2 separate regions of the Homo sapiens genome follow, and region 1 is linked to region 2. Evidence: fine-mapped expression QTL. A gene starts in region 2. The other region holds a variant in brackets. All regions are shown on one strand. Distances are between the middles of the regions.

The links. PIP is the estimated chance that this variant, and not a neighbour inherited with it, causes the effect. A credible set is the group of variants that fine-mapping cannot tell apart.
Region 1: its variant is the best candidate, but not a certain one, in a credible set for the expression of SWAP70 in whole blood (TOPMed, PIP 0.73).

Annotation. Positions count from the first base shown.
Region 1 is chr11:9,691,416-9,696,797 of GRCh38, forward strand. It overlaps SWAP70 (switching B cell complex subunit SWAP70), which reads left to right. Exons shown (of 12, transcript NM_015055.4): 2 at 2,731-2,871. Among named protein-coding and RNA genes, the nearest start is that of SWAP70, 30 kb to the left of the region's middle. The variant T/C (reference allele first, on the strand shown) is at 2,684.
Region 2 is chr11:9,661,029-9,666,410 of GRCh38, forward strand. SWAP70 (switching B cell complex subunit SWAP70) reads left to right here and starts at 3,049. Exons shown (of 12, transcript NM_015055.4): 1 at 3,049-3,250. The coding sequence starts at 3,152. RefSeq lists enhancers at 2,227-2,426, 3,537-3,656 and a silencer at 2,897-3,396.

The DNA of each region.
Region 1 (5,382 bases), 30 kb after region 2:
TATACTGTGCTGCCTTCCTCACAGTTTGCCTAAGTAAAGATGGTTAAGAAAATTATCACTGAATTTAGCCATCCCTGTGTTTAACAAGAGTGCTGTTTAATTGTCGAAGGCTGAAATCTTGAGTTCAAATCTATATCTTCTGCAGTGGGATCACTTAATCAAACTAAGCATCTATATGTACAAAGAGCATTGTTGACTTTAGACAACTGAAGACATAATGTTTCTTATTACTGGAGAGTGCTGGACCAGAGATTACAAAACCCGAGTTCTAGTCTCAGTTCTTCTCAGTAACTTTAGTCAAGAAAAACAAATTTAATATCTGTGAGTCTGTAGTCACCATTTATAAGATGAGGATGACAATATGACATCCAAGGCCCCTGCCAGGGCTTTAGTTAGAGGATCTGTGAAACCCTAAGGTAGAGAACAGGGTGGGTATGGGAGAGATGGTGTTTTTTGTTTCCTGAAGGCTTTGGATTAATCAGCTACTTTTATCATGTTATTCCCCTATCTGGAAATTTTTGTATTTGCCTCTATTCCTATCCTAAAGCTATCCTTACCTATCCTGTAAGCCATAAGTTACATTTTACTTCCTCTGTGAAGTCACTGTAACACATACTATTTCTCCTTTTCTGAACTCATTTATTGCCCTTACAGCTCACTCATCCATTAGTCATGGTACATTGCTGTGGAATATGTCTTCCTTTTACACCTCATTTCTAGTCAGCAGGTTAATGTAGAAGAAAAAGTATAGGCTATGAAGATAAATAGATTGATCTATGTGATCTTAGGCTGGCCACTTAAAATATATATATATATATATATATTTAATTTTAAAAATATGTACTACATTTTTGAGTAGGTTAATTTTTTTTAAAAAAACTTAATACAAAGAAGAGCTACAGTGAAGTCTTTTTCTAACCTTGGTCTCATCAAACTTGTCTTCCTTTCACAGTTACTAGTTTCTTATATATCCCTCCAGAATTTCTTTTCTTCCTCCCTTTTCTTTTTTATACAAAAGATGGCATACATATTCTTAGGTACCTTGTTTTTTTCACTTAATTTATGTTGGAGATCTTTTCATATCCGTACATAGCAAGCTTTCTCATGGTTTTTATGTTTTATGGATATACCTTAATTTAACCAGTAGTTGGGAATTGTTAACTTGGGTAAAGTTCCAAATGATTTTAAAATTTGAATGACATTTGAACCTGATCTGAGAAGTGTGCATTTCTTTAATACTTGTATTTCCATAGCATTTTACAGTTATTAAGCTCTTTATATTCTTGAAATTGATCTTTAGTATATAGGATTTACTAGGCTAATATAAATTAAATATCTTTTTAAAATTTTGCTGATTGTGGTGCAGGATTCTCCAATAAAAGCTCCACCGTACTCTTTTCATGTGCTTTACTGGCAAACACAGGGTTTGCTTGAGAAACACAGCCTGCTTTGTAGTCTTCATTACTGCATTTATAACCATTTGTGAATTTACTTCCTTAACTTACTTCCTTAAAACCAGTAGAGCATGTAGAAAAGGATCTCCACATAAATGAAGCTTTGAGAAACAAAACAAATTTAGAAAGAAGATATGCAAATTATTTTATAGATTAAAAATGTTTAATCTTAAAAAAACTCCTAACTGAAATATGTGTATGCAGAAAAAGGGACTCGCTTAATGCAAATGAAAGTATTTATTGAGATGAATGTGGCTCCTTAAGGTTAAATGTTTAGGGCTGAGAAAAATAAGGAACGTTTTTACCTGGGGTTCAACTAGGAAGATTCTCTGTTGAAGAAAATACAGCCTTAGCTATGTAATTTGACCTGTTCAGAAAGCACAAATGAAATGGAAGGGATTTAAGTTCTATCTTGAAATTTTCATTTAATGTAAAACAAGATTAATACTAAGGTAGCCCACACTGCTCATTTAACTACTGTACCTGGACTTTGAAGTGTGAACTTAGGTTATTGCAAGACCAGTAGCCCTTTATATGTATTTATGCTATGGAATGCAGGTTTTCTGTAAAATATTTTTAACCATGTTGGCGACTCCTATTTTTGCTATTTAATTTTTTCCTGAATCTAATCCAGGCCCTTGATTTCTTTCTCTTTTTATATTTATATTCTTTTATACTCATGCTGAAATTTAGCCTAGTCATAGAATTTTAGAAATGTTTAGATACTTAGAGATTCCTAATTAATATTTGGTATATTAATTTGGCCCTTTCTATTGAATAAATGAGAAAACTAAAGCCTGGAGAGGTTGTGACTTGCCCAGGTCAGCCTCCTTGTCCAGAACCCCTGGCTGCAGCCTCCCAATAATACCAGGTTCTTTCTCTGAACAGCTCTAATTGGCTGACTCTGCTCTACTTGGTGAAAAGTTTAATTTTGAACACATTCTCTTAGACTTCCCCCCCCACCCCACTTTTCTTTCTGATGTGGACAAATTAGTAAAAGACCACAGGAGTATTATATTCACAGATCTTGCATGGAGCCTGGCTCATAGTAGGCATGTAATAGAGACTAGTTCTAAGTGAACCAAACCTGGGAAGGAATGAGAAAGAATAACAGGTTACAAGTAGGGGCTTGCAGCTGAGCAGTCCTCACCCTGTTTTTGCTAGTTTATTTTCCATCTTTCTCTACCCAGGAGAGGGAGCAGCATGTTGTACTCATGGTGAAGGTGTCA[T/C]GTGCTGGTTAGTGGGAGTCTTTAAACGATTTTCTTTTCCCTTGCAGGTCCTTTCCCATAACCTGTGCACGGTGCTGAAGGTTCCTCATGACCCAGTTGCCCTTGAAGAGCACTTCAGGGATGATGATGAGGGTCCAGTGTCCAACCAGGGCTACATGCCTTATTTAAACAGGTTCATTTTGGAAAAGGTATGATTCTAACCTTTTTTTGGGTGTAGCATTGTTTGGTTTGCATGTTTCAAGTGGGCCCAAAAGCCCCCTGTTGGTGAGTTCACTAAGGAGTTGAGGTACAAAGAATCACTAGATAAACCAGAAAGGAAGAAAGAATGAGAGACTGACAGTGCTTCCTATTCTTCCCTCTCCTCCACTGTCTTCTAAACTTGGTTTGATGTTTTTCCAACTTGGTTCATTCTTTGAAATTAAGAACTGTGTTTTGTGTTAATCTGTACCTATTCTCTCTCAGGGTGCTTTAAAAAAATCAAGTCTAATATCCAGAATTTACAAGGAACTTAAACAAATTTACAAGAAAAAACCCCATCAAAAAGTGGGCAAAGGATATGAACAGACACTTCTCAAAAGAAGACATTTACACGGCCAACAAACATGAAAAAGCTCAACATCACTGATCATCAGAGAAATACAAATCAAAACCACAATGAGATACCATCTCACGCCAGTCAGAATGGTGATTATTAGAAAGCCAGGAAACAATAGATGCTGGCGAGGCTGTGGAGAAACAGGAACGCTTTTACACTGTTGGTGGAAATGTAGATTAGTTCAACCATTGTGGAAGGCAGTGTGGCGATTCCTCAAGGATCTACAACCAGAAATACCATTTGACCCAGCAATTGCATTACTGGGTATATACCCAAAGGAATAGAAATCATTCTACTATAAAGATACATTCATGCCCAGGCAGGGTGGCTCACATCTGTAATCCCAGCACTTTGGGAGGCCGAGGCGGGCAGATCACCTGAGGTCAGGAGTTTGAGACCAACCTGACCAATATGATGAAACCCCATCTCTATTAAAAATACAAAAATTATTTTTAGTACGTGTGGTGGCATGCTCCTGTAATCCCAGCTACTCAGGAGGCTGAGACAGGAGAATTGCTTGAACCCGGGAGGTAGAGCTTGCAGTGAGTCGAGATCACGCCATTGCATTCCAGCCTGGGCATCAAGAGCGAAAATCCGTGTCAGAAAAAAAAAAAAATACGTGCACACGTATGTTTATTGCAGCACTATTTACAATAGCAAAGACATGGAACCAACCCAAATGCCCATCAATGATAGCCTGGATAAAGAAAATGTGGTACATATACGCCATGGAATACTATGCTGCCCTAAAAAAGAGTGAGATCATGTCCTTTGCAGGGACATGGATGAAGCTGGAAGCCATCATCCTCAGCAAACTAACACAGTAACAGAAAACCAGACACCACGTGTTCTCACTCCTAAGTGGGAGTTGAACAATGAGAACACATGAACACAGAGGGGGGAACAACAGACACCAGGATCTGTTGGGGGTTGGGGGATGAGGGGAGGGAACTTAGAGGATAGGTCAATAGGTGCAGCAAACCACCACAGCACACGTACACTTATGTAACAAACCTGCACGTGCTGCACAGGTATCCGTTTTTTTTTGTTGTTGTTGTTGTTTTTGTTTTTAGAAGAAAAAAAAATCTGGTTTCATATATACTGGCAATAGTTGTTTTTTTTGAGGGGTCTCATCCTGTCACCCAGGCTGGAGTTCAGTGGCACGATCTCAGCTCACTGTAGCCTCTGACCTCCTCGGGCTCAGGTGACCCTCCTACCTCAGATTCCCATTATTGGGACTGCAGACGTACACCACCACACCTGGCTCACTTTTGTATTTTTTTGTAGAGACGGGGCTTTGCCATGTTGCCCAGGCTGGGGCAATGGTTGTTAAAGTGTGGAAGTGGTGGAGTAATGTGTGAATATTAAAAGTGATGATTATCTTTACTGTATAGATATTATACAGCCAACTCTTATCCCAGACTTTTCAGGGTACCACTTAGATATTTCCTCTGGGATATGTTCTGAGTAAAGATGCTTTAAAAAACCTGTGAGGTGCTTGGAAGTCAAATATCACCTATTAGTGTTTGGGGCCATGTTCGGTTTTTCCCTTGGGTTGGATCATTACAAATTGACACACTAAAATTTTGAATTTGATGCAAGAAAAGATGGTACATTTAAATAATTTTTAAAATTGGTGATGAAAAAGTTACAAAAGGTAGTACATAAGCAGTTAATACAGAAATATGTGAAATAAAAAGTGAACGTTGCTTTAATTTTTTGTAGTCTGATTTTCCTGGAGTAACCAGTGTTAATAATTTAGAGAATATCTTTGTAGACTTTCAAAAATTACCTGAAAACATACACACACATGCACCCACACACACATACACATGTACACACACCCTCAAATCAATATATGCTATTTTGTTTCAACATGAATAGGATCATATTATACATACAGCTCTGCAACTTTTTAAAAAAAGGTTTTTTTATGTGACCAGTAGGATATAAGCAACTTATTTTTTTAATTGAACAATATATTAGTGTCATCTTTCCATATCATGTACATTTAGTTTAGATATGAAAGTAATCATTTATATCAAAAGTTTGTGAATTCCTCCTTTTGCCTATTTATAACACCGAGCATGAAATTTCTTTGTAT
Region 2 (5,382 bases):
CATATGAGGAAATGAAGCCTTATATTTACTCATAGATGAGTCAATGGGGAAGCCCGGATTCTTCCCGACATCTGTGTGGTAGCCATCTTCCAAGATGACCCCCATGATTCTTGCCCATTGGTACTCATATCCTTTTGTAGTTTCCCTCCCAAATCAAATAGATTTGACCTGAGCAATCAGTAGAGCATTGCAGAAATGATGGTGAATGACTTTTGATGGTGGATCGTAAGAGACATTGCAACTTCCATCTTTCTCTTTCTTGAATCAATTGAAAGCCAGCTGACGTGTTGTAAGGATACTCAAGCAGCCTGAGGACAGGCCCATATACAGAGGAACTGAGGCCTTCTGTAAACGACCCATCCATGTGAGTGAACCACCTTGGAAATAGATTTTCCAGCATCAGCCTAGCCTTCAAATGACTACAGCCCTATATTTTACTGCAACCTCCTGAGACACTTCAAGCCAGAACTATAGAGCTAAGTGGCTTCTAAATTCCTGACTTACAGAAAATATGAAATAATGTTTACTATAGTTTTAAGCTGCTAAATTTTGGGTTAATTGGTTACACAGCATTAGATTAATATAATCTGTTAGATTCTGAAGCACAACTCTTTACTTTTCTTTCTTTCTTATTTTCAATTTTTTTGTGGAGACGGGGTTTTGCTACATTGCCCAGGCTGGTCTTGAACTCCTGGCCTCAAGCAATCCTCCCACCCCAGTCTCTCAAAGTGTTGGGATTACAGGCAGGAGCCACTGCACCCAGGAAAAGCACAGCGCTTTCTATGACATCATGCTACTTTAAAATTTGTTTGGATAGGAAGGGCATGGTGGCTCACGCCTGTAATCCCAGCACTTTGGGAGGCCAAGGAGGGCAGCTCACTTGAGGCTGGGAGTTTGAGACCAACCTGGCCAACATGGCGAAACCCCATCTCTACTAAAAATAAAAAAATTAGCCGGGCGTGGTGGCTGGCGCCTGTAATCCCAGCTACTTGGGAGGTTGAGGCAGGAGAATCGCTTGAACCCGGGAGGCGGAGGTTGCAGTGAGCTGAGATCATACCGTTGCACTCCAGCCTGGGCAACAGAGTGAGACTCTGTCTCAAAAAAAAAAGAAAAGAAAAAAAAAGAAAAAAAATGCGTTTGGATTGTATGAATGAGGATGATGGGAGAAGTAGGAATTTGGAAGTCCACAATGTCCTGGTCTTGTCATAAAAAAAAGGCTTTGAAATATGTTTGGTACTTCCAGATACTGAGAGAGAAGAAGGGTCATATAGTGGTTAAACTGAACCTTGAGAATTAGGAGGTTTTCTTCGTTTCTTTTTTCTTCTTCTTCTTTTTTTTTTTTTTTTGCTACTCAGGGTAAGCTGACTTCGCATGAATAAATCAGAGGTTAAACCATGTGGTTTTGCTGACTGGCAGACTTGGGCTGGAAATGGGGAAGATAAATGATAGAAATTGGATTCTGGTAGGGCAAGAAAAGTCCTGACAAATGGTGATGAAATGGGGTAGAACCTTCAGGACAGTCACAGTGAGGGGCTGGCCACCCTTTTGCTCCTGCCCCTTCTTTCGTCAGTGGGGCCATCCTCTCCTCTTCCCCACCAGTTCCTTTTTGATCTCAAACTCACTGAAGAGGCTCCTTCTTGTTCTTCTCTTTCCAAATATCCCTTTCTTATGAAGATCTTTTCCTTTCTTAATAAGGCAAACATGTGCATTAAGGAACTTAAAAAAGCAAAACAAAACCAAACTTCATCTGAGAACCACCTCATTTTAAAAACTCTTGGTGTTTATTGTTCTCTCCAATTAGTCCAGGATTGGAGAGGAGAGGTACTGAGCCTGGCGATTTAATCAGACCTTAGTTAACCGGCAATAGTTATTATCCTAGGATGCTAGTACTGCAAGAACCCTTCCAGAACATCTGGTGCAACCCTGCTCTTTTTATACGGGATAATTTGAAGCCCAAAGAGATCAAGTGACCATTGTGACCACCGCGAACAGATATTAATTCAACAGCTGCAATCGAATACTTTTTTTTTTTTTTTTGAGACGGAGTTTCACTCTTGTTGCCCAGGCTGGAGTGCAATGGCGCGATCTTGGTTCACTGCAACCTCCGCCTACCGGGTTCAAGCGATTCTCCTGCCTCAGCCTCCCGAGTAGCTGAGATTACAGGCATGTGCCACCACGCCCGGCTAATTTTGTATTTTTAGTAGAGACGGGGTTTCTTCATGTTGGTCAGGCTGGTCTCGAACCCCCGACCTCAGGTGATCCGCCCGCCTTGGCCTCCCAAAGGGCTGGGATTACAGGCGTGAGCCACCACGCCTGGCCGAATACGTTCTTTTAAATGGTCCATCTCTTTGGATTAGTAAAATGGGTGGAGTGATTTGGAATTGGCCCAGATCTCCTATTCTGCAAGCAGAGAAACACTACAGAGAGGTATTACCCAGGTCAAACCCCTCCTAAGATGTGAATTGAACAACAGCTAGGCGTTAGGAAGAAAATGCTGCCTGACCCTGACTTCTAAACTCCCCTTAAACGTCGTCGCTGTGTCCCTAGAACCCAAGATAGAGTATGCATGAATAAACTTTTGCGAAATGAACCAACAAACTTCCCTCGAGGTCCTTCCTGCCTCCCCGCCGCCCTGCATCTCCCCGACTTGGGACTGCGCTATCATTTCAGTCCTGGTCTGGGGACTTTTCGGGGTCTTCTCTGGCCTTCTCAGACAGTGACTCCGTTCCCAGGACAGGACCAGGGATCCCTTTTTCACTGCGGGGCGCTGGGAGGAGGCGGGTAGGCTGCTCACCTAATCTCTCGGGTTTTTCCTCAAGACGCGGTCATTTGTGTGAGGTGTTGTACTCGAGCACCCAAAATGGCCCGAACTGGTCTGGGAAACATTAGGGAGATGTGTTTACCGTCCTGGCTGACACTGAAGGCCAAGCATTCTTGCCACCAGGCGTGGCTTGACTCGCAGAACCCACACTCTGGCGGCTGTGGGCGCGGCACTGGACCGGCGCCGGCAGCAGGGCGGGGCCTGGCGGGGGCGGGGCCTGGCGGGTCAGGTGACTGCGCGGCGGGCTGTGGCTGCGGAGGTTGAGGGGCGTCCGAGGCGCGGAGGGGCTGGCTGGGCAGGAGGGGTTGGCGGGGCAGCAGGGCCGCGGCCATGGGGAGCTTGAAGGAGGAGCTGCTCAAAGCCATCTGGCACGCCTTCACCGCACTCGACCAGGACCACAGCGGCAAGGTCTCCAAGTCCCAGCTCAAGGTGGGCGCCTCCTGACCCGGCCCCCCACCCGACCCTCCCCGGCGCGCTCTGTACTTCCCTTGGGTGGAAGCGGGACCTGGCGGGCCGTGACCGCAGGGCGGGGCGGGTCGGAATGCGCCCGGTAGGCCCGCTTGGGGCGGAGTGGGTCTGAGACCGGGATTTGGTGTTTACTGCCTCCCCCTTGCCTTCGGGCCATGCCCTCGGTTGGATGTGTTAGTTCCCGCGGGTCTCCCAGGGACTGGGAAGGGTGGCGGGCATAAGGCTGGGGTGAAGTCTGGAGGGCCAAGTGTGATTCCTTCTTGGCGTTGGAGAGCGGGGGGCAGAAAGTGGATTCTGAGGCGGCAATGGGAAGCTCCCTTACACAGCCTTCCCAGAATTTTCCTCTTACTCCAGGAGAGGAAGGGACTTGCCCAAGGTCGCTGGGCAGAACCTTCTGCAGCCCACAGCCCCACACCAGGACAGTCCTCAAAACGGCTAGCTGCCCCGGAGGCGACAGGGCAGTCCGGAGACGCAGAAATGCCCCGAAGCCCGGCCTCCAGGGTCCTTCTCCTTTGGGAGGCTTTTTGACTTGGGAAGACCTTCCGCCCAGCGTCTTTTAAGTTTGGAACTAGTGGACGGGGTGTACTGTGTCCCACAGGGACCTTAGTTCCGGGTGAGGAGCGCTGATCTTTCTGGCACCCTGCAAAAGCGACTGCTTTTTCAGAGTCGTTATTGTGACTGCCGGAGACCCTAGAGTATAGGGTATAAATAAAGGGATGCTTGTAAATTGAGTAACCCCAAGCAGCGAAATTGGCATTAAGCCAGCAGAAATTGGCAGCTTCTTCAAAGTAAAAAAATATAGAAACAGACAAGAAAAGCTATTCATAGGCATTTAAAAATATACATATTTTAGATCCGAATGTCCGGTTTTCTTAGCCCCTTCTGGGAATAAATTCTGAAGATTGGGTTTGTTTTGTATATTTTTGTACAGTAATCCCGTTCTTCTGAGTAGTGGCTTTTATGCCAGTAGGACTTAACATTCTCCTTGTCTTCCTTTTGCCTCTCCTTTCTTTTTCTCACTGATAGAATCATAGTCTGGAAGGGTCCATGGAGATCATCCACGTAATTTTTATTTTACTTCATTTTTAAATATTAACATACAGTAAAATTGACTTTTGGTGTACAGTTCTATAAATTTCAACATATGTATAGATTTATATAACTATCACCACAACCATGGCTTCCTCAGTTCCATCATCCTAAAAAACTCCCTGATGTTGCCCTGCCTCCACCCCAACTGTCGGCAACCATTGATCTTTCCTAATTGCTATAGTTTTACCTTTTCCGAAGTGCCATGTAAATGGAGTCATATAGTTTGTAACTGTTGAAACTGATTTCTTTTACCCAGCATAATGCCTTAGAGATTAATCCATTTTGTTGTGTGTACCAATAATTTTTTAAATTGCTAAGTAATATTCTATTGCATGGATGTATGGTAGTTTTTAGCCATGCATCTGTGAGAATTTGTGTTATTTCCAGTTCGGGGGAGTTATGAGTAGGTCTACATTTTACTTTTATTTTTACTTTTAACTTACCTATGCCATTTTATTTAAAGTAAGTTTTTAATAAATAGATGTAGCTGGGTCTTTTTTTTTATTCATTCTGACAATCTCTGTCTTTTAATTGGTATATTTAGGCCATTTACATTTAATGTAATTATTGATATGGTTTGATTTAGGGCTACCATTTTATTATAATTTGGTTTCTGCTTTTTTTTTTTCCTCTCTTTTTCTTCCATCTTTGGGATTATTTGAATATGCTTTAGTTTTTTGTTTTTTTTTTTTCTGAGACACAGTCTTGCCCTGTTGCCCAGGCTGGAGTGCGGTGGTGTGATCTCGGCTCACTGCAACGTCTGTCTCCTAGGTTCTAGAGATTCTCGTGCCTCAGCCTCCCAAGTAGCTGGGATTGCAGGTGTGCGTCACCACACCTAGCTAATTTTTGTATTTTTAGTAGAAACGGGGTTTCACCATGTTGGCCAGGCTGGTCTTGAACTCCTGAGCTCAGGTGATCTGCCCTCCTTGGTTTCATGAAGTGCTAGGATTACAAGTGTGACCCACTGTGCCTGGCCAATATTTCATTTTAATAGAGTTTTT